Homo sapiens: one gene and its partners. The protein of the gene in region 2 purifies or fractionates together with the protein of the main gene of each other region. This does not show direct contact. Each region holds a gene or a part of one and is shown on either strand. Other genes may lie near its edges. The genes, in order: PTPRS, PTPRB and VEGFA.

The links.
Region 1: the proteins of PTPRB (region 2) and PTPRS purify together in Homo sapiens (affinity purification with mass spectrometry; one large-scale study listed by BioGRID and IntAct). This does not show direct contact.
Region 3: the proteins of PTPRB (region 2) and VEGFA purify together in Homo sapiens (affinity purification with western blotting; one study listed by BioGRID). This does not show direct contact.

Annotation. Positions count from the first base shown.
Region 1 is NC_000019.10:5,215,302-5,218,951, forward strand, and holds part of PTPRS (receptor-type tyrosine-protein phosphatase S isoform 1 precursor), read right to left. Parts: intron 3,498-3,650; coding exon 3,486-3,497; intron 3,232-3,485; coding exon 3,119-3,231; intron 1,467-3,118; coding exon 1,419-1,466; intron 295-1,418; coding exon 197-294; intron 112-196; coding exon 1-111. UniProt on the Homo sapiens protein: Cell surface receptor that binds to glycosaminoglycans, including chondroitin sulfate proteoglycans and heparan sulfate proteoglycan.
Region 2 is NC_000012.12:70,630,884-70,634,533, forward strand, and holds part of PTPRB (receptor-type tyrosine-protein phosphatase beta), read right to left. Parts: intron 1-3,650. UniProt on the Homo sapiens protein: Plays an important role in blood vessel remodeling and angiogenesis. Not necessary for the initial formation of blood vessels, but is essential for their maintenance and remodeling. Can induce dephosphorylation of TEK/TIE2, CDH5/VE-cadherin and KDR/VEGFR-2.
Region 3 is NC_000006.12:43,776,705-43,780,354, forward strand, and holds part of VEGFA (vascular endothelial growth factor A, long form), read left to right. Parts: intron 1-764; coding exon 765-961; intron 962-1,755; coding exon 1,756-1,832; intron 1,833-2,184; coding exon 2,185-2,214; intron 2,215-3,650.

The DNA of each region.
Region 1 (3,650 bases), on a different chromosome or scaffold from region 2:
GAGGATGACACGGGAGTGGTCATAGGCGATGACGTTGGCATAGCGGTTCTTCGGCTTGTTCACTTCCAGGTTGGAATGTTCCCATGTGAACTGCTGTCCAGGGTCGATGGACTACAGAGGAAGGGGAGAGCGCGGGTGTCAGGGTAGGTGCCTGTGAGGCCGAGGTGATGAGGGTGGGAGGCGGGGGTGGGCTCACCTCATACTCCTGGGAGAGCTTGAGGCTGTCGTTGGCCTTGAGCCGCTCCGTGTGCTCCGCCATGTCTGCGATGGGAATTGGCGGGTGGCTAAGCATGCCTACAGGGTGGAGCAGACCCCGCCGGGGTTGGTCACTTGGGGGGCCAGCCGGGGACTCGGGGGAGGGGGGTGATCTACGTGTGAGTCTGCGATGGGTGAGCTGTGGTTAGAAGGGCATGGCCGGGGTGGGGCTTGGCAGGAGGGGAAGACTCAGGGTGGCTCATGAAGGGGCTGGGACCCCAGGCCTAGGGGACTCTAAAGGCAGCAGGTTTGAGGCCCTCTGCTCCGTGCAGAGGCTGACACCCCTGGAGGGGCCTGGATCACAGCATTGGCCCATCCTGTTTCCTTCCAACCAAGCTGGGGGTGCAGGGGCTGGCAGAAGGGTCACCCCAGAGGATGTCAAGCTCCCAGTGCCTCGAGCCAAGAAGCAAGTGTGTGGCACAGAAATTAAATTGCAGACGCAGCCGGCTGTGCTTTGGAAATACTGTCCTTGGGTGGGCGACTGACACCCCTTTCTGTCCCTCTGGGATCAGAGGCACGAAATCCGCTTCCAGGTAGAGGCGACAGACTAGGGAGGGGAAACAGTATGTGTGTGTGTACGTGAGAGGAGTGAGGGGTCCCCATCTGTCCCTGCGCTTGCTTGGGGCAGGAGCAGGTGCAAGAAGGCCCTGGCCTGAGAGCTCTTATCCTTTCAAGCCCCCTAGGATGGCTGCCGAAGGTGCTGGGTGTGGGCTCGGTTCTCCCTTCCCGATATCTGGGTCTGCAGAACCCTGACCTCTCCTGGGACCTGTGTACCGGATGTTCAGCTCTCAGGTGGTTTCCAGACCAGCTGGTAACATTTAATGTTCTGAGACTTCCATGTGTCCCTAGCTGTCCTGGGTGCCCCCCAAGAGCTCACATCTAAGGGGCCTGCCTGTCCTGTGGGCACGTCCTGGGTACATACGTGCCTCACCCACATCCCTGACACACACATACACACCACACACACAGCAGTCACACACAGCCACCTGAGGGCCCAATGGACCAACCCCCTGCCCTCTTCCAGGAGCCAGCACAAGACAGGTGGGCAAAGGCCGGTGATGGGTGGGCGTGTGGACAGAGACAGGAGACACGATGGAGAAACCAAAGAGGAAATGAACGGGGGCGGGGGCGAAAGGAAGCCAAAAACAGACACAAGAACTAACTTTCAAAGTGAAACCCCGGCTCCCTGAGGGGGCTCCTGAGGCCTGAATCTGCAAACAGCAAACAATAAATAAATGAAAACATGCAGGGGGTAGGGGGGGGTCCCACCTCTGCCTCCCCCACCCCTCACTGGCTGGCGGATGCAAAGGGCAGAGCAACGCGGACAACGGGGGGTATGTACAGCCACCTGGGCCCCCACCTGAGGACTCACGATAGCTGCTAACTGTGTACCCCTCTGGCTGGACACCAGTCAATCCTGGTCTTGACCCGTCACTCTGGAAGGACTCCAAAGTGCTAGGTTCTTCTGTCTACAGATCCCCTCCCCCAGACCAGCCTGGCCTTGGGTCCCCTCTGTTGAGGTCAGCAGAGGGCATTCTGAGGAAGGAGGATGCAGGATGGTGAAGGAGAAGCTGGGGGAGCAGGGAAAGGACATATGGGCCCATGCCATGAGCTTCAAGGAGGACAGCAACCATCAGTTAAATGCACATGTTGAAAATCCTTATTTGGATGGAAACACAACAGACATCAGCTAGTCCAGAGACAGAAATGAGATGGGAGCACATTAGCGGTGAATTGTGAGACTCTGCATGATCCCTTCAGGAGACTGCAGCCGTCAGTTACATGCACATTTAAAATTCTCATTTGGCTGAAAAACCAAAGCAACACGAATCAGTACAGAGGAAAGAAAGGGAAGAGAATACACGAGGGGTGATACATGAGGCCCTGCATGATCCCTTTATGAGGACAGCAGCCATCAGTTAAATACTAATGGTCAAACTCCTCATTTGGATGAAAACAGAAGTGACACAAGCCAGTCCAGAGACAAAAAAAAAGAAAGTACATCAGGAATGGCATGTGAGGCTATGCATGAGGCTTTAAGGAGGACTAAAGACATCAGTGAAATACAAATGTTTAAAATCTTCATTTGGTTGGAAAATAGAGTTGATATGAACCAGTTCAGAGATACGAAGTGGAGACCGGGTACAGTTGGAAGGACAGATGTAACTTGGCTGTGAACCCATAAGGAGAATAGCAGCCATCAGTAAAATGAAAAATTCCTTATTTGGTTAGAAGCAGCTGGCATGAGCCCATGAAGAGGGAGGAGATGGTAGAGTTTGTGAATCATACATGAAAATGATCAAGGATAAGGCCTTGATTCAGTTCTCCTGGACTGTCAGGTGACTTTAATCTACAGGGAACTATAAAGAGGCATGAACCCTGGCAGCCATGGTGGGAAGAGGTACAGGGCATTGGGCAGGTATAATTTCTGTACCTTGCTAGGGATATATCCCAAGGGAGTGTGGAAAATGGCTGAGGGCAAACCTCAACTCCCACCACCGAGGAACATTAAAACCAGAGACATAAACAGAAGAATAGCTCTTTCTGCCCAAAGAAATGAGGGGTTTATTTGTGTTTTCTCCATTTTTTAAACATCGTCTTTAGGCTCCTGAAGAGGACAGCAGCCATTGGTTAAATGTTAACTTTAAAAAAAAAAAAGCCTCACTTGGTTGTAAGCAGAACCAACCTATGAGTTCCAAGCCCAGATCCATGTAGGGTTGGAGGTATTTGGGAATCCAGAATGTGGCTGCACCAAGCATAGTTCAGAGGGGGCCAATGAGGGGCCCCCAGGGTGGCAGCTACTGCTTCTCCCCAGCTATCTCCCCTGTTGGTGGCATCCCTGGTACCAGGGATAAGTACATACCTGGAGTCTGGAAGTTAATGCGTCTCATTTCCACAGGGTCCTTGGGGTGGTGAGGGGCGAGGTCGGCATTGTTCAGGAGGCATTTGGTGCGGGGTTCTGAGTCCTTGCGTTTACTTTAGGAGAAGCAAGCGGAACAGTCCAGTTAGTAGTGGCACATGTTCATGTGTGAACACAATTCAGGCCCCAGGAATGCATGGTAAGAAAAGGACCATGGACCCGTATGACTAGGGTTTCCAGGACCAAGTACAGCTACGTGTACAAGCTGTGGGGGCAGCCGGGCATCCCCTCTCCTGTGGGCACACTATCAGCCCATTCCCTGTCCTCTTCCTCTTGCCTGAAGCCTCCACGGGGGAGGGCTGGTTCTTACCTGTCGGGTTTGCTGTTCCCGAAAGCAGACACAGGTGAGAAGGGGGAAAAAAAGAAGAAAGGTGAGGGTGTGCCGGCCATCAAGGGCTTGTTCTGTGACTCTCAGTGCCTTCCTTAACCTCTGTGAGCTTTGGTCTCCTCTGGAAAATGGTGCTCATATTTCCTG
Region 2 (3,650 bases):
CCTCTTCAAGGAGAACTACAAACCACTGCTCAACGAAATAAAAGAGGACACAAACACATGGAAGAACATTCCATGCTCATGGATAGGAAGAATCAATATCGTGAAAATGGCCATACTGCCCAAGGTAATTTATAGATTCAATGCCATTCCCATCAAGCTACCAATGACTTTCTTCACAGAATTGGAAAAAACTACTTTAAAGTTCATATGGAACCAAAAAAGAGCCCACATAGCCAAGACAATCCTAAGCAAAAAGAACAAAGCTGGAGGCATCACACTACCTGACTTCAAACCATACTACAAGGCTACAGTAACCAAAACAGCATGGTACTGGTACCAAAACAGAGATATAGACCAATGGAACCGAACAGAGCCCTCAGAAATAATACCGCACATCTACAACCATCTGATCTTTGACAAACCTGACAAAAACAAGCAATGGGGAAAGGATTCCCTATTTAATAAATGGAGCTGGGAAAACTGGCTAGCCATATGTAGAAAGCTGAAACTGGATCCCTTCCTTACACCTTATACAAAAATCAATTCAAGATGGATTAAAGACTTAAATGTTAGACCTAAAACCATAAAAACCCTAGAAGAAAACCTAGGCAATACCATTCAGGACATAGGCATGGGCAAACACCTCATGACTAAAACACCAAAAGCAATGGCAACAAAAGCCAAAATAGACAAATGGGATCTAATTAAACTAAAGAGCTTCTGCACAGCAGAAGAAACTACCATCAGAGTGAACAGGCAACCTACAGAATGGGAGAAAATTTTTGCAATCTACCCATATGACAAAGGGCTAATATCCAGAATCTACAAAGAACTTAAACAAATTTACAAGAAAAAAACAAACAACCCCATCAAAAAGTGGGCAAAGGATATGAACAGACACTTCTAAAAAGAAGACATTTATGCAGCCAACAGACACATGAAAAAATGCTTATCATCACTGGTCATCAGAGAAATGCAAATCAAAACCACAATGAGATACCATCTCTTGCCAGTTAGAATGGCAATCATTAAAAAGTCAGGAAACAACAGATGCTGGAGAGGATGTGGAGAAATTGGAACACTTACACTGTTGGTAGGAGTGTAAACTAGTTCAACCACTGTGGAAGACAGTGTGGTGATTCTTCAAGGATCTAGAACTAGAAATACCATTTGACCCAGTGATTGCATTACTGGGTATATACTCAAAGGATTATAAATCAAGCTACTATAAAGACACATGCACGTGTATATTTATTGTGGCACTATTCACAATAGCAAAGACTTGGAACCAACCCAAATGTCCATCAATGGTAGACTAGATTAAGAAAATGTGGCACATATACACCATGGAATACTATTGCAGCCATAAAAAATGATGAGTTCATGTCATTTGCAGGGACATGGATGAAGCTGGAAACCATCATTCTCAGCAAACTATCACAAGGACAGAAAACCAAACACCGCGTGTACCACTCATAGGTGGAAATTGAACAACGAGAACACTTGGACACAGGGCAGGAGACATCACACACTGGGTCCTGTCGGGGGGTGGGGGACTGGGGGAAGGATAGCACTGGGAGAAATGCCTAGTGTAAATGACGAGTTGATGAGTGCAGCAAACCAACATGGCACACGTATACCTATGTAACAAACCTGCACATTGTGCACATGCACCCTAGAACTTAAAGTATAATTAAAAAAAAAAAAGGAATGAGTGCTTAATGTGACATACTGGCAAGGACATATATTGGAAAGGAAAGTACTTTCTTCTCTCTACATTCTATTGTAATTACCTATTTATTTACTTATCTGATTTCCCCATTACTTTAAGGAATAAGATGTATTTAATGATTTGCAACCTTGGCTGCACATCAGAATCACCTAGGAAGTACTTTAAAAATACAATACCTCATTTAGTCAGCTTAGAGGATAAAGCTCAGGTTTTATACTCTAGTATTAGTTAAAAGCTGCCATGTGAGTCTAATATGCAGCTTGGGTCAAAAATCACTTGTGGAGGGCACCTTAGTACTAGCACAGGGTACCTGAGTGCTAGCACAAGCTCTGGCACATAGTAGGTGTTAAATAAATATTACCTGGAAACTTGAATACAATCATTAATGTGTCTTTTATGAAACAAATATGAAACATGTGGCTTAGATTTTTACCTTCATAGGTCTGCTTTCTTTCATGGAAGAACACACAAAAAAATTCACATCCCATAGATGAACAACACATGTATTTGTGCTGCTGTAGATTATAATACTTAGTTACCAACTTAAACAATGATTTGAAATCACTCATTGCAAACATATGAATGCATTTCGGTTAATTTTTCACAGTAGCTACTCTAGCAAGTCAGTGAGCTCTCATGATATAGGTCTACAAGTATTATTCTTAAACTTTTATCAGGGCTGGGCATGGTGATTCATGCCTGTAATCCCAGTACTTTGGGAGGCTGAGGTGGGAGGATCACTTGAGCCCAGGAGTTGGAGGCTACATTGAGCTATGATCACACCATGGCTCTCCTGCCTGGGCAACAGAGCAAGACTTTGTTTCTAAAAACAAAAACCAAAGAAAAAACAAAAACAAAAAGAAAAAACCCCACAATGGCATATTTAAGATGGAGCAGAAAAATATATCTGTTAGCTTATAATTGTGTTAAAGCAAAAGTATGTGTTATACTTATGTGTACTCAAATATAAGGGTGTTTTTGTACCACAATTGTGCAAATTTTAACTTCTGCTTTTTCTAGAAATTAATTTCTTTCCCCAACACATATTATCAGGCATTTTTTGAATATAGCATTGTTCAGTGGTTAATTGCAAATGGCTTATTCTAGTTACCTTATTTTCGAAGTCTATTACTAGACATATTTGTATGAGGGTCATAGGAGGTAGTTTTTCTATGAATTATCTTTTATCTTGAATAACTCACCACTGAGTCCATATCTACTTTTTTTTAAAGTTCCAACTAAGTAATCTTATGTTAAATAAGGTTTGATTGGGGTTTGGGGATGAATCTCACTTCTTGTGTAAAACAGTAAAAATGGAACAGTTATAATGTTTCTATATTATTTAGGAGAGGCCTTGATAGATGAACCACAGGAAAGGTATTGTACAAATTGGTGCTATATGCTGAATATTTTCTGATAAAGTTGAATTTTTGAGTAGGTTTTTTTCTCATAGGCAGAAATGATATAAGAACAGAAACTATAACTCTCAACTTTTATTGTAGCAAAGCATACCACTTATTGTAGAAAAGCATAACACATTCAAATGGCATCTAGTTAAATGCTTGTTTTAACTTACAGAATGAATGAGTGAGAAAAAATTGTCCAAAGATTACCATGGTGGAAAGACTAATATAAGCCTCACAAATCAACACCTAAGGAAAAGACTTAACAATACAGTGGATGCTGATCTCCATATTGGATTATGGATCAAAATTTTCTGGTGATTAATAAATATCAAGTATTATGCACAAATCCAGATTTCCTGAAACAGAATCTTGGAGGTGGTTGTAGAGGAAAAAATGGTGGGAAAGAATCCTGGGAATGTGTATTTTTTTTTAAATTTTTATTTTTAGTTTTGGGGTACATGTGCAGGGTGTGCAGATTTGTTACATAGGTAAACGTGTGCCGTGGTGCTTTG
Region 3 (3,650 bases), on a different chromosome or scaffold from region 2:
CCACCTTCTCAGCTCATGTCTGGGGAAGAGGACTGGCAGGGGGAAAGGTGCCTCCTCCTGAAAGGTGCCTCCTCTGTTTTTGCCTAATATAGGCTTGGGAACACTTTGATGTCAGCTAATTCTGACTCCTTTACTTACTAGCTGTGCGGCCTTGGGGCAACTTACTTAGCCTCTTTGAGCCTCCTGTTCCCCATCTGTAAAATGGAATCTCAATAGTGTCTAATAGTACCATGTGGAGAAACTTGTGTGAAATGATAGCTGTGGACTACTGTACACAGTACTCAGGATGTAGTAAGTGCTCAATAAACAGCTGTTGGTATGGTTGACGTTATGGTAGTGGTTGTGGGGAGGACGTAGGAAACTGGAGACTAGCTTGGCAAAGCTGGCTCTTCCTCCTTTTAGGGAAAGCTTAGAGCATCCCCATGGGGTATACCCATACTCAGACTGTCCTCTGGCATCGAGGTTGGCCCAGGATTCAGTTCAGCTGTCACAGTGAGGTGGCGGGATCAGATGTGGCAGGCCATGTCCCTTGGAACTTGAGTACATCGTGTGATCTCTGGAATGAAAACAGGCCTTCACCAGTGTTGATGGTGGAAAGCTTAGGGAAGTGCTTCAAACACAGTAGGAGGGACTTACGTTAGATTTTGGAAGGACTTGCCTGATTCGGAAGCTCCAAAGAGTGGCATTACAGAGCTGGGTGGAGAGAGGGGCTAGCCATCTTTTGTGTCGCCCACCGGGCTCATGTGTCATCGCCTCTCATGCAGTGGTGAAGTTCATGGATGTCTATCAGCGCAGCTACTGCCATCCAATCGAGACCCTGGTGGACATCTTCCAGGAGTACCCTGATGAGATCGAGTACATCTTCAAGCCATCCTGTGTGCCCCTGATGCGATGCGGGGGCTGCTGCAATGACGAGGGCCTGGAGTGTGTGCCCACTGAGGAGTCCAACATCACCATGCAGGTGGGCATCTTTGGGAAGTGGGGCAAGGGGGGGATAGGGAGGGGGGTAACACTTTGGGAACAGGTGGTCCCAGGTCGTTTCCTGGCTAGATTTGCCTTGTCTGGCTCCTGCCCCTGAGTTGCACAGGGGAGGTATGGTGGGGTCTTGCCTTCTGTGGAGAAGATGCTTCATTCCCAGCCCAGGTTCCCAGCAAGCCCCAACCATCTCCTTCTCCCTGATGGTTGCCCATGGGCTCAGGAGGGGACAGATGGATGCCTGTGTCAGGAGCCCCTCTCTCCCTCTCTTGGAGAGAGTCCTGAGTGCCCCCCCTTCTTGGGGGCTTTGTTTGGGAAGCTGGATGAGCCTGGTCCATGGAGAGTTTAAAAAGTCTTTTGGTGTTACCTGGTAATGGGGCACATCTCAGCCCAGATAGGGTGGGAGGGAGCTGTGAAACACAGGGAGGGGGTTGCTTTCGGGTATCTACTAGGAGTCAGGGTGAAGCCTAGAGAGGATGAAAGAAGGGGAGGGGATGGGGAGTGGTAAGAACCTAGGATTTGAATTCCCAGCCTGGCCAACCCTTGCAGCCATGTCTTGGCCTCAAGTGGAACAAGGGCTCCTTGAGGCCAGCAGGGTTGGGGGAGTTGGGGTGGGCCTGAGCCTCTTTCCTGCTAGAGCTCTTGGTCCTCCCTGCCTCCACCACCCATCCCTGCTCTGCAGAACCCCTGGGTGCTGAGTGGCAGGAGCCCCAGGGTTGTCCCATCTGGGTATGGCTGGCTGGGTCACTAACCTCTGTGATCTGCTTCCTTCCTTTCCAGATTATGCGGATCAAACCTCACCAAGGCCAGCACATAGGAGAGATGAGCTTCCTACAGCACAACAAATGTGAATGCAGGTGAGGATGTAGTCACGGATTCATTATCAGCAAGTGGCTGCAGGGTGCCTGATCTGTGCCAGGGTTAAGCATGCTGTACTTTTTGGCCCCCGTCCAGCTTCCCGCTATGTGACCTTTGGCATTTTACTTCAATGTGCCTCAGTTTCTACATCTGTAAAATGGGCACAATAGTAGTATACTTCATAGCATTGTTATAATGATTAAACAAGTTATATATGAAAAGATTAAAACAGTGTTGCTCCATAATAAATGCTGTTTTTACTGTGATTATTATTGTTGTTATCCCTATCATTATCATCACCATCTTAACCCTTCCCTGTTTTGCTCTTTTCTCTCTCCCTACCCATTGCAGACCAAAGAAAGATAGAGCAAGACAAGAAAAGTAAGTGGCCCTGACTTTAGCACTTCTCCCTCTCCATGGCCGGTTGTCTTGGTTTGGGGCTCTTGGCTACCTCTGTTGGGGGCTCCCATAGCCTCCCTGGGTCAGGGACTTGGTCTTGTGGGGGACTTGTGGTGGCAGCAACAATGGGATGGAGCCAACTCCAGGATGATGGCTCTAGGGCTAGTGAGAAAACATAGCCAGGAGCCTGGCACTTCCTTTGGAAGGGACAATGCCTTCTGGGTCTCCAGATCATTCCTGACCAGGACTTGCTGTTTCGGTGTGTCAGGGGGCACTGTGGACACTGGCTCACTGGCTTGCTCTAGGACACCCACAGTGGGGAGAGGGAGTGGGTGGCAGAGAGGCCAGCTTTTGTGTGTCAGAGGAAATGGCCTCTTTTGGTGGCTGCTGTGACGGTGCAGTTGGATGCGAGGCCGGCTGGAGGGTGGTTTCTCAGTGCATGCCCTCCTGTAGGCGGCAGGCGGCAGACACACAGCCCTCTTGGCCAGGGAGAAAAAGTTGAATGTTGGTCATTTTCAGAGGCTTGTGAGTGCTCCGTGTTAAGGGGCAGGTAGGATGGGGTGGGGGACAAGGTCTGGCGGCAGTAACCCTTCAAGACAGGGTGGGCGGCTGGCATCAGCAAGAGCTTGCAGGGAAAGAGAGACTGAGAGAGAGCACCTGTGCCCTGCCCTTTCCCCCACACCATCTTGTCTGCCTCCAGTGCTGTGCGGACATTGAAGCCCCCACCAGGCCTCAACCCCTTGCCTCTTCCCTCAGCTCCCAGCTTCCAGAGCGAGGGGATGCGGAAACCTTCCTTCCACCCTTTGGTGCTTTCTCCTAAGGGGGACAGACTTGCCCTCTCTGGTCCCTTCTCCCCCTCCTTTCTTCCCTGTGACAGACATCCTGAGGTGTGTTCTCTTGGGCTTGGCAGGCATGGAGAGCTCTGGTTCTCTTGAAGGGGACAGGCTACAGCCTGCCCCCCTTCCTGTTTCCCCAAATGACTGCTCTGCCATGGGGAGAGTAGGGGGCTCGCCTGGGCTCGGAAGAGTGTCTGGTGAGATGGTGTAGCAGGCTTTGACAGGCTGGGGAGAGAACTCCCTGCCAAGTACCGCCCAAGCCTCTCCTCCCCAGACCTCCTTAACTCCCACCCCATCCTGCTGCCTGCCCAGGGCTCCAGGACACCCAGCCCTGCCTCCCAGTCCAGGTCGTGCTGAGCAGGCTGGTGTTGCTCTTGGTTCCGTGCCAGCTCCCAAGGTAGCCGCTTCCCCCACACCGGGATTCCCAGAGGTTCTGTCGCAGTTGCAAATGAAGGCACAAGGCCTGATACACAGCCCTCCCTCCCACTCCTGCTCCCCATCCAGGCAGGTCTCTGACCTTCTCCCCAAAGTCTGGCCTACCTTTTATCACCCCCGGACCTTCAGGGTCAGACTTGGACAGGG